Linked DNA regions of Homo sapiens. The protein of the gene in region 2 purifies or fractionates together with the protein of the main gene of each other region. This does not show direct contact. Each region holds a gene or a part of one and is shown on either strand. Other genes may lie near its edges.

What was found.
Region 1: the proteins of ARHGEF10L (region 2) and COP1 purify together in Homo sapiens (co-immunoprecipitation; 2 studies listed by BioGRID and IntAct, with this or other methods). This does not show direct contact.

What each region holds. Positions count from the first base shown.
Region 1 is NC_000001.11:175,948,787-175,952,286, forward strand, and holds part of COP1 (E3 ubiquitin-protein ligase COP1), read right to left. Parts: intron 1-3,500. UniProt on the Homo sapiens protein: E3 ubiquitin-protein ligase that mediates ubiquitination and subsequent proteasomal degradation of target proteins.
Region 2 is NC_000001.11:17,542,698-17,546,197, reverse strand, and holds part of ARHGEF10L (rho guanine nucleotide exchange factor 10-like protein), read right to left. Parts: intron 1-3,500.

The DNA.
Region 1 (3,500 bases), about 160 Mb from region 2:
AAGAAATAAAGACATGTGGGCATGGGAATTGTTGATCTTTTCCTAGCTGAGGATTTTCCTTAAATTAGCAAATGTTCTTAAAAATAGTAACATGGGGGCTGGGCGCAGTGGCTCACACCTGTAATCCCAGCACTTTGGGAGGCAGAGGTGGGCAGATCATGAGGTCAGAAGATCGAGACCATCCTGGCTAATATGGTGTAATCCTGTCTCTACTAAAATACAAAAAATTAGCTTGGCGTGGTGGCGTGTGCCCGTAGTCCCAGCTAGGCAGGAGGCTGAGGCAGGGGAAGTGCTTGAACCTGGGAGGCACAGGTTGCAGTGAGCAAAGATTGCACCACTGCACTCCAGCCTGGCTGGAGAGACTCCAGCAAGGCTCCGTCTCAAAAAAAAAAAAAAAAAAAAAAAATGAACATGGGTAATACAATACTCACTATTAGAATTAACTTTGGAATATTATGGGCTATTTCTGGGACTTGAGGTATACAGAATCAACACTTCCATATTCGGGGTGGGGGGCTGGGGTGAGGGGAAAGGAAGATGAATTTGGGATTTATTTACTCTTTTAGTGACCTGAATGTAGAAAGTGGTTGGAGTAGGTTCTGGATGTCCTTTAGGAATATAATAACTTACCCTGAGTTGGTTAAGAGACAGCATTTCTATGCTGGCCTCAGAAAACAGCAGAAAGAGGCACTGTGTGGTGCAATATGGATTTCTTTCTAGCAGGAATTTTAAACAAGTTGTATGGTATCAGAACTGCCACTGGTGACCCACAAATAATTCTCCTGTAAACATCATCCAGAAAAGCAGTTGAAAATCTCACTGATCAACCTAGTTGCCATTCAAGGAGGGGACAGACTCTGGTCTGCAAGAAAGCTACTGCCAAGAGCCACCACCACTAAATGCTGCAGCCATCATGAACTGCTCCCTTTGCTATGAGAACAAATAATGACAGGACAATGAAAAATTTAAAGCCGAAAGCTCCATCTCCTTCTGCCATTTTGGGTCTAGTCACCTTTTAATATAGAGAAGGAATGCAGAGACCTGGTGAAGATGAGGATTCACTTGGGGATAAGCAGGGAGTCTACTTCTGGCAGTTACAGGGATTATAAATTACATAATTGAAACTTCTGACTTCTGATGGGAGCAAAACTAGGAAAATTGTAGTATATTATCTTACAGTATGAAAAATTAGCCCCAATATAAATAAGATAATCTAGTTGGATTACCACACAAGAGGAGTTTAAAATATGTACAATTACCACTCTAAACCCAAGAAGGACATCTGATAACTATCCAACATGAATAAACACTGTCTTACTGTAACCTCAGGATTACTATGGCATTAATATATGATGTCATATTAGATGCTATCCAAGGGTTAACTCTTAACACTATTTCCTGCAGAAACAGATAAATACTTTATGTGTTAAAAAAAAAAAAAGTCAACATACGAATTGAATGCCAGTTTGAATGGTCTTTTAGGACTGAAATTTAATGAAAGAAAAATAATGGCTTCATATCTCAGTACATCCTCTCTCCCCAAAGGTAGTATGATTACAAAAAAAGTTATTTAGAATTAAACTATCAGATAGCTAGATATTGGCTTAAGATAAATTATTTTTTTTTTGCATGCAACAGAAAAATAAGACCAGATATTTTACTTCTAGCATAGAGATGTGGAAGTGGTACGTACAAGGTTATTAATGTAAGTTTTTAATGGTTCTTGATTGTATTTTGGATGACTGGTAATTCCTAGTTGTAGCTGTGGTCTGCTAGGGCCTACTATAAATAAGTTCTAGCTCAACAGGTTATTTTTTACTTGCTAAATAAAATAAAAGTGTGAGTCAGTAATTCTTATTATTTTCTCCCTCTTTTTTGGAAACCGGCAGTTTTACTGCAGAACTCTCCTCAAGGCTAAGCTAATAAAATACCCAATATTTTTTTCTGACTATGAAGAGACTAAGAAAAGACAACAGAAAAATTAGCAAGTCTTTTATAAAAACAGAAGACATATAAACATGCACCAACTTGCTTAAGTCAGTGATACTACACTAACTTATACCAAAACATTTTTAGTAGCACACGTAGGCTAGTGAAGAAAACCTGCATCTACTAAAATAGTTTTATCTTTATTGACTTGCTTAAAAAGGGTCATTATAGACAATACATTAAAAATCTGGATGGCGCTGTGGGTCACACCTGTAATCCCAGCACTTTGGGAGGCCAAGGCAGGCGGATCACCTGAGGTCGGGAGTTTGAGACCAGCCTGACCAACATGGAGAAACCCCATCTCTACTAAAAATACAAAAAAAATTAGCCAGGCGTGGTGGCACATGCCTGTAATCCCAGCTACTTGGGAGGCTGAGACAGGAGAATCGCCTGAACCCGGGAGGTGGAGGCTATGGTGAGCCAAGATCATGCCACTGCACTACAGCCTGGCCAACAAGAGCAAAACTCCATCTCAAAAATAAATAAATAAATAAATATATAAAATATAATAAAATAAAATCCTGACAAGTTGAGAAATGAACAGTTATTCACTCAGCAACTGGTGGATTTATTCATAGAGATAGATGTAACTGATTTTAAATGTAAATTAATTTTAGTATAGGTATAAGTATATACAATGTATTTAAATATAAGATACGTGAATATATATATATATATATATATATAAAAACTTCCATTTTTGGCCATAACAGAGTAAACAGACTAAATTTGTTTTCCTACCATATACAACTGGAAAACTGAAAAAAATATGTAAGATACCACTGGACCACAGGCAGTACAGGACTGTGATCTTTGAGAGAAAAGAAACAAATGAAGTGAGTCCTATAATCACCCTGGTTTTCTACTGAGAGGCAATTTCTGGACCACAAAGCAGGTAAGGAGATGGACATAACAACAGATGAGACAAGTGAGGAATAAAACATCAAAAAATTTGGTAACACCTCCAAAATTACAACTGAAGCAGACAGGAAAAAAGCATGAGAGGAAAAAGAGATTAGCATCTCAGTGACCTATTGGGCAATATGCAACCTAATAAATGTATAATTGGAGTCCCAAAGAAGGAAGAGAAAAAAATATATGAAAACGTTAAGACTAAAATGTTTCAAATTTGTAAACTATAAACCCACAAATCTAAGAAGCTTAACAATTTCTGGCAGAAAGAAGCACAACACCACATCAAGGCACACCACAGTTACACTGCTGAAGACAAGAAACAGAGAAAATCTGTAGAAATGCCAAAGAAACAAAGACACATTACATAAAGAGAAAGATCGCCAATTTCCCATCAGCAAGAATGCAAGCCAGAAGACAATAGGACAGCATCTTTAAGATGACAAACAAGAGGCCAGGCGCAGTGGCTCACGCCTGTAATCCCAGCACTTTGGGAGGCCATGGCAGGCGGATCGCCTGAGGTCAGGAGTTTGAGAGCAGCCTGGCCAACATGGTGAAACCCCATCTCTACTAAAAATACAAAAATTAGCTGGGCGTGG
Region 2 (3,500 bases):
AAGCTTCAGGGACAGCAGGAAACTACCAAGAAACCTCAAAGATTTTTAGGGAAGCAGGGTGATCCACACAGCACAAGGCCCCTGACAGGTGAGGTTTGTCAGATTTCCTTTGCTGGCACCCAGATGATGCTGTGCCTCCTGACTTGAGGAAGGTTCAATGCTTCCCCTACTCTGTTTCAAGCCCTGCAGACTTTTGATTCACCTGACACCAGAGCCAGACTGAACTCTCAATAATTCATGCCTCTGAGCCTTTGCACATGCCATTCCTTCTGGGTGGAGAAAACACACATTAACTCCCCTGGGTAGAAGGAGCAGCATGTGCAAAGGTTCAGAGGCATGAATTGTTCCCCTCTCCCTACCCCATTCCCCTGCTACACTCCGCACATCCCTCCACTGTATGTAACATGTGCACATGTCCATCTTCCAACCAGAGATCACAGGATGTACAAGAGCAACCGTCTGCCTCTACTCTCTCATGCAGGTCCTGAATCCATATGGACAGGTCATGCCCACTGTTGCCTATGTCAGCTCTAGCCACCCATGTCCTGGACATCACAACTCCACAAGCCCCAAGCTACTTAATTTGTCCACGGTCTGTCCTCAGACACCACTGCTGCTTTTCCTCCCAGATGCCTGAGTCATCCTGAATAGGGTTACTCAATGGCAAAGTCAGCTCTCAATTAACTGAATTTCCTCCTTGTCCCATTTCCTCTCTTCCTGGTGCATGGTAACAACTCACTTGCTGGAATGGAGAGCTCCTGTGATTTGAGGGCAATTTACAACCTCTATCACCAAAGCAGGCCCTGCCCAGCAGCTGCCCCTCAGCAATGAGGACACTAAGATCAGTCCTGGAGCGCCATCACACCAAAATGTAAGTTCAAAGGGAGGGACTGAGTTGCTCATTGCTGGATTCCCAGTGGTGTGCTGGTAAACAGGCTCTTCAGGGGAAAAGATTCTGATTTGCAGTGTTTGCCAATTTCTGTGATATAAATACTCTCACTCTGGCCAATTTCAAGCTGCCAATGTGACATCACTGAATGGAGTTGAGATATGCAGTAGCACACCACTACGTACATTACACACACACCCACACCCACACTCACACCCCTTGATATGGTTTGGCTGCGTCCCCACCCAAATCTCATCTTGAATTGTAGCTCCCATAATCCCTGCATGTCATGGGAGGGACGTGGTGGGAGGTAATTGAATCACAGGGGCAGGTTTTCCCCATGCTGTTCTCATGATAGTGAATAAGTCTCCCAAGACCTGAAGGTTTTATAAAGGACAGTTCCCTTACACAGGCTCTCTCGCCTGCCACCATGTAAAATGTGCCTTTGCTCCTCCTTCGCCTTCTACCATGATTGTGAGACCTCCCCAGCCATGTGGAACTGTGAGTCCATTAAATCTCTTTTTCTTTACAAATTACCTAGTCTCAGGTATTTCTTCATAGCAGTATGAAAATAGCAGTATGAAAAAGAACTAATACACTCCCCAACGCACACACACACAAAGCAGCAAATAACCACAAAAGCACAGGTAATAATAGAATAAAATAATTAGGAAAAAAATTGAGTATTTATTACTTTATAAAATATAATTTACAGGCTGGGCATGGTGGCTCACGCCTGTAATCCCAGCACTTTGGGAGGCTGAGGTGGGCAGATCACCTGAGGTCAGGAGTTTGAGACCAGCCTGGCCCACATGGTGAAACCCCGTCTCTACTAAAAATACAAAAATTAGCCGGGAGTAGTGGTGCACGCCTGTAGTCCCAGCTACTCGGGAGGCTGAGGCATGAGAATCGCTTGAACGTGCGTGGGAGGCAGAGGTTGTAGTGAGCCGAGATCATGCCATTGCACTCCAGCCTGAGCAACAAGAGCCAAAACTCCATCTCAAAAAAAAAATTATTATATATATATATACACACATATATATGTATAAAATTTATGGCCAGTCACAGTGGCTCATAATTGTAATTCCAGCACTTTGAGAGGCTGAGGCAGGTGGACCACCTGAGGTCAGCAGTTCAAGACCAGCCTGGCCAACATAGTGAAACCCCATCTCTACTAAAATACAAAAAATTAGCCAGGTGTGGTGGCAGGCACCTGTAATCCCAGCTACTGTAATCCCAGAGGCTGAGGCAGGAGAATCACTTGAACCCAGGAGGTGGAGGTTGCAGTGAGCAGAGATCACGCCACTGCATTCCAGCCTGAGCAACAAGAGTGAAACTCCATCTCAAAAATATATAATAGCAGCCAGGCGCGGTGGCTCATGCCTGTAATCCCAGCACTTTGGGAGGCTGAGGCAGGTGGATCACCTGAGGTCAGGAGTTTGAGACCAGCCTGGCCAACATGGTAAAACCCCGTCTCTACTAAAAATACAAAAATTAGCTGGGCGTGGTGGCAGGCACCTGTAATTCCAGCTACTGAGGGGGCTGAGGCAGGAGAATCACTTGAAACCAGGGGGCGGTGGTTGCAGTGAGCTAAGATTGTACCATTTCACTCCAGCCTGGGCAAAAGAGTGAGACTCCATCTCAAAAAACAAACAAACAAACAAACTATATATATATAATTTACTTAATGATGAATGTATACACTCAAAAAAAATTTTTTTTTTTGAGACGGAGTTTTACTCTTGTCCCCCAGGCTGGAGTACAATGGCACAACCTCGGCTCACTGCAACCTCCGCCTCCTGGGTTCCAGCAATTCTCCTGCCTCAGACTCCCGAGTAGCTGGGATTACAGGCATGGGCCACCACACCCAGCTAATTTTTGTATTTTTAGTAGAGATGGGGTTTCACCATGTTGGCCAGGCTAGTCTCGAACTCCCGACCTCAGGGGATCTGCCTGCCTTGGCCTCCCAAAGTGCTGGGATTACACGCATGAGCCATCGCTCCTGGCCTCAGAATTTTTTATAATGGTTGTGTTTAACAACCGGCTCATAAAATTCCTAAAATTTAGCAATCAGCTCTTATGTGTAGGTGTGAGCTGGCTCCCAACTCACCACTGCCCAGGACCCGGCAGAGGCTCTGTAAGGACCAGTCACTCCTGGGAATGTCATCAGACCAGGGTCCTGAATGAAAATGGCTCTGATGCCCTCCACTGAGGTAGAGAGAAGAAGAACTCTCTGGGACACTGCAAGGAAGGAGCTGAGCTGGGCCCAAGGTGGCACCATGGGGCGGAACAACTCTGGCACACTCAGTTGTTAAAGAGCCTGATTCTCTCCTGGACTTTAGACCCCTTGAGGGCAAGAACAGTGGCCCATTCACCCTTGTCTAGCCGGGTGACAGGAATACAAAAGGCACTGGAGACAGTTGTGCAGAAGAAAGCAAGGACTGAGTGGCCAGGGAGTCCCAGGCTGAGTGCTGGCGCCTTCGCTGACTCGCTTCAGCAGTGACCTTCGACAGTCACTTAAATGCTGTATGCTCAGCTTCCTCATCTGTAAGATGGATATGAACCCATCTCCCTGCCTAACTACTAGGGTGTTGTCAAAACAAAGAGATAG